Homo sapiens: one gene and its partner. The protein of the gene in region 1 purifies or fractionates together with the protein of each later gene. This does not show direct contact. Each region holds a gene or a part of one and is shown on either strand. Other genes may lie near its edges.

Region 1 (3,500 bases):
TGGATGCGGAGCCTGCTTGGTCCTCACCTCAACTCCTGGCAGAGCCTGGGACCCTCCCTCTACTGACCTGGGTGCAGCCCCCTCAGACCAAGGCCTCCCACTCCGTGACACCAGTGATCCCAGGATAAGAGAGGGACCTCAGCAGAAAGCCAAGCCCATGCTCTCTGGGGTGACAACAGGAGCAGGGCTGATTTCTGTGGGGTCATCATCTGCGTTCTGGCCCTGTGGTACCCTCAATCCTCCCTCACATTCCTCACCAGGACTCTTGGCAGATCCTGGGACCACTGTGTCTGTAGACCAGATGGGGGTCCCTGTGGTGACCTGAGTCACCCTCTGAGAACAAGGTCCTCACCTCACTGAGATCTGGAATCAGAAATGAGAAGGAGCCACATCCTGTCACCCCTGTGTGGGGTGCCCAGGGCTGACCCCTTTGGTTCTGGGGTGAGGGTTCTGATGGCCTCCTGTGGGGTACTCATGTTTGCTCCTGACAGGGCCTGCCCTTCCTCAACCCCCAACCCCCTGAGATGAGCAAACATTGCCCCTTTACTCCAAAACCTCATCTCCCTGAAGGTTCCCCAACTTCCTGCCTGTGGAACAAGTGAAATTGGCACATAGGGCCATCCCTCCTCTGGTCCCCCCTGAGCTAAGAACAGGGGACAGCCAGACTCTGTGGGGTCCCGTCTTTCTGAGCCACAGGTATCCCCATTCCTCGTGAAGTGTGGCACACCTTGGGTCCTGTAGATCCTGGGACTCCTCCCTCTGCGGACCTGAAGTACCACCCCTCAGACCATAGCCCTCTCCTCTCTGTGACCTCGAAGATGCAGGAAGTATGAGCTACAGGTGGCTACCTTGCCCAGGACCTCCCAGGGCCCAGGTCTCCACTGATCTGGAATGCAAGGCCCCCTGAATCCTCCCTCGTCTTCCTTTCCTTGATCCTGGAAGGGCTTGGAACCCACCCCTCTGCTGACCTGAGTTGCCATCCCTTGGATTCCTGAGGCTAAAAGAGGAGGCACCTCATTCTCAGACGGGGTGGGGTGGGCTCCCTGCCTTGGGGTGCTGGGTCTCCTGAGGCCTTCCTCATCTCCCAGGAGGGCCAGGGTCCTCCCTCTGCTACCCTGAGGCTCTGCTCATGATACCAAACCCTCTCCCTCCTTCAGCCCTCGATGTGGATGTCAAGATCCGAGTGCCTGACCATTCCCAGGTCTTCCCGGGGTTGACTGCAGGGGAAAAAATGGATTCTGCAAAACGGAGTTGGGGATGGGGCTGGGCATGTTGGAATGCGGATGGGGTGGGGGTGTAGCGCCCTCAGTTCCCTCTCAAGGTCCTGACCCCGATGCCAGGCAGAGCCTGGGCCCTGCCTTGGGCACACCAAGCTCTTGACTCTAGAGTCCCCTGTAGCTTTAGTGGCAGTGGGAGCTGGGATGGCCTAGCCTGAGAAGTCTTCCCCCGGGTGGTCCAGGACTGGCAGCAGGAGCTGCGCTGGATTATTTGGGTTCCTCTATCTTGGGTGGGGGCCTCCTCAGTCCTTCCTCAGAGTCTCACCTTGCCTCGCCACAGAGCTTGGGCCCGCTCCCCTCAGCCGATCTCAACTGGCCCCTCAGGACTATGCCCTTGATTCTCTGACCCCCAAAAAACATCCCAGCACCAAGCCTGGGGTTTCCCTGGATTGATAGCAGAAGGGGAACTGGATTCTGCCTGGTGAGGGTGGAGGGCAAGGAATGGGAAATGGAGCAGCGAAATGGCAGCGGATTTGTGGGAGTGGGGGTTAGACTAGGATCTTGGGGGACCTCAGTTCCCTCTCAGGTTTCTGACTTTGATTCCTGGCAGGGCCTGGGCCATGCCCTCTCCTAACCAGCCCTTCCCTGATCACACCAACCTCTGACTCCAGAGTCCCCTGTGGCTTAAACAAACGCGTTGCGAAGGGGGCGGAGGTGGGGAGCAGCCCAGTCTGAGAAGTCAGCCTCCGCGGGGTAGTCCAGGGCTGGGACCCTCTATCAGGGATAGGGGTTTCCTGAATCCTCCCTCAGAGTCTCACTTTGCCTCTTCACAAAGCCTGGGCCACCTTCCCTCTGCCGATCTCAAGCCACCCTTCAGACCCAGAAACTCACTTCTCTCTAACCCTCAATTCACAAGTCAGTGGCATCACATCCGGCCACCCAGGGCTTGCCTGGATTGAAAGCAGGGGTGGAACCGGATGCTGCGCTGATGGGGATGAAGGTAGGGGTGGGGGAGGGGGGTATGAGGCTGGTTGGGGGGTTGGGGAGGATAGGGGCACAGGTGGGGAATGGGGGTACAGATGGGGTAGGGAGTGCAGATGGGAAAGGGGTAGGGGATAGGAATGGGGGTGGGGGACACTCAGCCCTCTCCTAGGGTCCTGACGTTGATGCCTGGCAGAGCCTACCCCCACCAGTCCTGCACTGATCACACCAAGCTCTGACTCCATAGTCCCCTGCGGCTTCAGCGGCAGTGGGGTGGTGGGCGTCCCAGACTCAGAAGTCCGCCCACGGGTGGCCCAGGACTGGAAGCAGGAGGGGTGCCGGATTATTTGGGGTCGTCTATCTGGGGTGGAGAGGGCCTCCCGACTTCTCCCTCAGCTTCTCACTATGCCACCTCACAGAGCCTGGACCGGCTTCCCTCTGCCAATCCCAAGCTGCCTGTCAGACTGAGAAGCTAGCGTCTCTCTAACCCCCAATGCACAAGTCACTGGCATCACATCCAGGAACCTGGAGCTTCCCTGGGTTGAAAGCAGAAACGGAATGCGATTCAACCTGGATGGGGATAGTGGTGTTGGGGTGGGGGATGAGGACATAAGGGTAGTGGGGGTTTGGGGAGGATAGGGGTGCTGGTGGGGGATAGGGTGTAGATGGGGTTGGGAGTGTGGATGGGAATGGGAAGGGGGATGGGAATGGGGGTGGGGGACCCTCGGCCCTCTCTTACAGTCCTGAGGTTGATGCCTGGCAGAGCCTGCCCTCACCAGTCTTGCACTGATCACCCCAAGCTCTGACTGCAGAGTCCCGTGCGACTTCAGAGGCAGTGGGGTGGTGGGCGCCCCAGACTCAGAAGTCCCCCCACGAGTGGCCCAGGGCTGGGAGCATGAGTGGTTCGGGATTATTTGGGATTGTCTATCTGCGGTGGGGGCCTCCTGAGTCCTCCCTCAGCGTCTCACCTTGACTCCTCACAGGGCCTGGCCCGCTTCCCTCCACCAGTCCCAAGCTGCTGGTCAGACAGAGCAGCTCGCTTTTCTCTAACCCCCAATGCGCAAGTCAGTGGCATCACATTCCGGCACCTGCGGCTTTCTTGGGTTGAAAGCGGAAGCAGAACCCGATTCAGCGTGGATGGGGGTGGGAGGAGTGAGGTCGGTGGAGGGGGCGCGTTTTGGGGGTGGGTTGAAAGCGGAAGCAGAACCTGATTCAGTGTGGATGGGGGTGGGAGAGGTGAGGTTGGTGGAGGGGCCCGGGTTTTGGGGTGGGAGATGGTGGTGTGAGAGAGGTGCGGGGTTG
Region 2 (3,500 bases), on another chromosome or scaffold:
AACTTGGGAAGTGGAGGTTGCAGTGAGCCAAGATTGTGCCACTGCACTCCAGCCTGGGCGACAGAGGGAAACTCTGCGTCATAAATAAATAAATAAATAAATAAAGTATGGTACACTTATAAAGCCTTCCTTTTAAAAGTCAAATTCCAAGTTAGGATTTTCCTAAGGAAATAGATTCCTTTTTTAAAAGACTTCAATATTTAAACATTACGATTGTCTATCTACAGGGTTGTAGATTTAAGTATTTTTCTGATACATTTTCATTATTTGTATTTCTACAGATTTTTTAGCAGTGAATTACTGCTAAATAGTAAAATTGGGATAGAACAAATAGATAAATTTTTCTTGTAGCCTTTACATTTCCAGTTATTTCACCATAGCATGTGCCCTTTCAATGTTAATATTCAAGCTTTGTAATTGATTTTACTTAAACTGATTAATTATCTCCTTTCTTCCCATCAAAGAAAATTATACTTCAGAAAACTTCCTATTATGTTGTGGGAATGAAGATGAATAATTTCCCAGATGTTATTTATGATTAAAAGATATGTTTACTTAGAGCTCCCAAATCCACAAGATTCACCTGGGCCAACAGAGTGTTGTTTTAGACTAGCATGGATTTAGAGGATAGGCCAGGGATTTTAATCTTTGTGAGCCCTATCTAAATTTCAATGTAGGATTCTTTTTTTTGGTGGGAGGCGGGGGGCAGGGTGAGGCAGGGTTTTGCTCTGTCTCCCAGGCTGGTGTGCAGTGGCACCCTCATGGCTCACTGCAGCCTCCACGTCCTGGGCTCAAGGCCATCCTCCCACCTCAGCCTCCTGGAATTTTTTTTTTTTTTAAAGAATAATTATCAAAGTCAGAGATACCTGTAGGTTTAAATGTTTAAATGTAATAGTTTCTCAAATTACTGTATACTAGGTGTAGAGTAGTGCTTTTGGAAATCAGTGATTTATTAGCCACACAGATTTTATTATCCCATATATATACGGTTTTGTAAAGATAAACATTGTTAATAAAATAAACTTATTTCAATACATTGCTTGTTTCTACTCATATTTCTTTCCTTTTGGACAGACACTCCTACAACTTTCTAACCCTTCTAAATTAAAAGATAGTAATTGATAAAAAAGTAATTTTAAGGTACTTCTCAAGGGAGTTATTTATTATAATGTATAAAATGTGTAAATTATGATTAGGCAGCCAGTGACAATTTTTTAGTGGAGATTGAATCTCATCTTTTTGTAAGGAGTTTATGAAGTCAGTGTCCTTTGAATATCATTAGAGTCAGTATGTACTGAAATGGATAATTTTGCGTGTCGATTACTCTTTAGTGCATCTTGAATACATCTGCATTCTAGATTACCAGGTTCTTCATAATATGTTGCCAAGTTACAGTGTATTTATTATATGAAGATTAGTAACTTCTGACTTTTGCCTCTTTTTTTAGCCATTGGGGAAAAGTTAGTGAAATATTTGTATTTTGTTTCTTTAGTCTTGAAATTTCAGTGAAAGCTGAAAAATGTATGATTTTAGTATTGAAAAATGACGGTCAATTGTGACAAACGTAAGATATACTGATAATTCCTTAAGGCAGGACACCAAAGGCATATAAGTAATCATAACAACCATAGACACTATGATAGCTCTACTGTGGGTTTCATTGCTTCCTAAAATAGGATGAATCAAGTTATAAGTGCTTAGAAGGTTTAGAAGCTTCTGGTAGCATGGAGCTTATGTTACAAGTATGCTTTAGGTCAGTGTTTTTAAAATGTTTTAAAAATGATCCATGATAAAAGTACATTTATGTGGCAACCTGTGATATACACAACGAAAATAAAGGATTCTCTAGGTGTATATATAAACCTTACTAGATGGGATGCATTCTGTTTTTTTTCATATTGTTACAACTGTTGGTGTTGAACTGGTAGAGTACGCACTAATGAGTCTCAGCTTGAGGTTTGGAAAATTGTTCTAGATGGTGTGTAGTTCTTGTAATTTAATGTTGCTTCAGGTTTAAGGTGGGCAGGCTTCCCCAAGTACTTGAAGGAGATTAAAAAAATTTTTTTTTAAACACTGCTGATGGCTCCACAGGGAAAATGTAAATAGTGAAACTTCATGTACATCTTGGACAAAATAACTAGGGTCGAACACTTTTAAATAGATATCTATTGTGGGATTGCTGACTTGTATGGTAAGTATGTTTAACTTTATAAAAAACTTCCAGACTGTCTTCCAAAGTAATTCTACCATACTGCATTCCCACCAGCAGTATATGAGAGTTCCAATTGCTCCACATTCTCATCAGCATTTGGTGTAGTGAGTCTTCCTAATTGTAGCCTTCATGGTAGGCGTGTAGAAATATATCATTGTTTTAATTTGCATTTCTCTTTTTTTGTTTTTGAGACGGAGTTTCGCTCTTGTCGCCCAGGCTGGAGTGCAATGGCATGATCTTGGCTTACCGCAACCTCTGCCTGCTGGGTTCAAGAGATTCTCCTGCCTCAGCCTGCCAAGTAGCTGGGATATGGGCATGCGCCACCATGCCCAGCTAATGTTGTATTTTTAGTAGACATGGGGTTTTGCCATGTTGGTCAGGCTGGTCTCGAACTCCTGACCTCAGGTGATTGACCTGCTTCGGCCTCCCAAAGTGCTGGGATTACAAGCATGAGCCGCTGCGCCTGGCCTTTAATTTGCATTTCTCTAGTGGTTAATGATGTTGAGTATCTTTTGTGGCTTTTGTTTTTGTCATCCATATAGTCTGGTTAAATGTTCAGGTTTACCTTTTTAATATTGTAAGAATTCTATAATTCTTTATATAACAGTCCTTAATCAGATATGTACTTTACAAATATTTTCTGTCAGTTTATGTCTTTTTCTTAACAGGTTCTTTTATAGTTCATACTTTTTATGTCCTATCTAAGAATCTTTACCTAATCCAAGGTAACAAAGATTTTTACTTTTTTTTTCCTGGAGATTTTATCTTTTTACCTCTTACATTTAGGTCTGTGAACAATTTCGAGTTAAGTTTTACATATGTTGTAAGAGTCAAGTTTCATTTCTTTGCATATTAATGTGCAATTGATCTAACAGTGTGTGGAAAGACTACTTTTTTCCCTTTGTTGAAAATCAATTGACCATAAATGTTTAAGTCAATTTCCTAGCCACATTCCATTGATCTAGCTTCATGTCTTTATACCGAGGATTGAAATCAGCTAGTGTGATACTTTAAACTTGGTCTTTTTTTTGAGACAGAGTCTTGCTCTGTCACCCAGGCTGGAGTGCAGTGGCTCGATCTTGGCTCACTACAAGCTCCGCCTCCTGGGTTCACACCATTCTCCTGCCTCAGCCTCCCGAGTAGCTGGGACTACAGGCACCCGCCACCACGCCCGGCTAATTTTTTTGTATTTTTTTAGTAGAGATGGGGTTTCACCGCGTTAGCCAGGATGGTCTCGATCTCCTGACCTTGTGATCTGCCCGCCTTGGCCTACCAAAGTGCTGGGATT

Evidence for each region. The genes of interacting proteins can lie anywhere in the genome.
Region 2: the proteins of MAGEA4 (region 1) and DCAF6 purify together in Homo sapiens (affinity purification with mass spectrometry; 4 studies listed by BioGRID and IntAct, with this or other methods). This does not show direct contact.

Annotation. Positions count from the first base shown.
Region 1 is NC_000023.11:151,919,389-151,922,888, reverse strand, and holds part of MAGEA4 (melanoma-associated antigen 4), read right to left. Parts: intron 3,297-3,500; exon of another isoform or gene 3,167-3,296; intron 364-3,166; exon of another isoform or gene 258-363; intron 1-257. UniProt on the Homo sapiens protein: Regulates cell proliferation through the inhibition of cell cycle arrest at the G1 phase. Also negatively regulates p53-mediated apoptosis.
Region 2 is NC_000001.11:167,939,683-167,943,182, forward strand, and holds part of DCAF6 (DDB1- and CUL4-associated factor 6), read left to right. Parts: intron 1-3,500. UniProt on the Homo sapiens protein: Ligand-dependent coactivator of nuclear receptors. Enhance transcriptional activity of the nuclear receptors NR3C1 and AR. May function as a substrate receptor for CUL4-DDB1 E3 ubiquitin-protein ligase complex.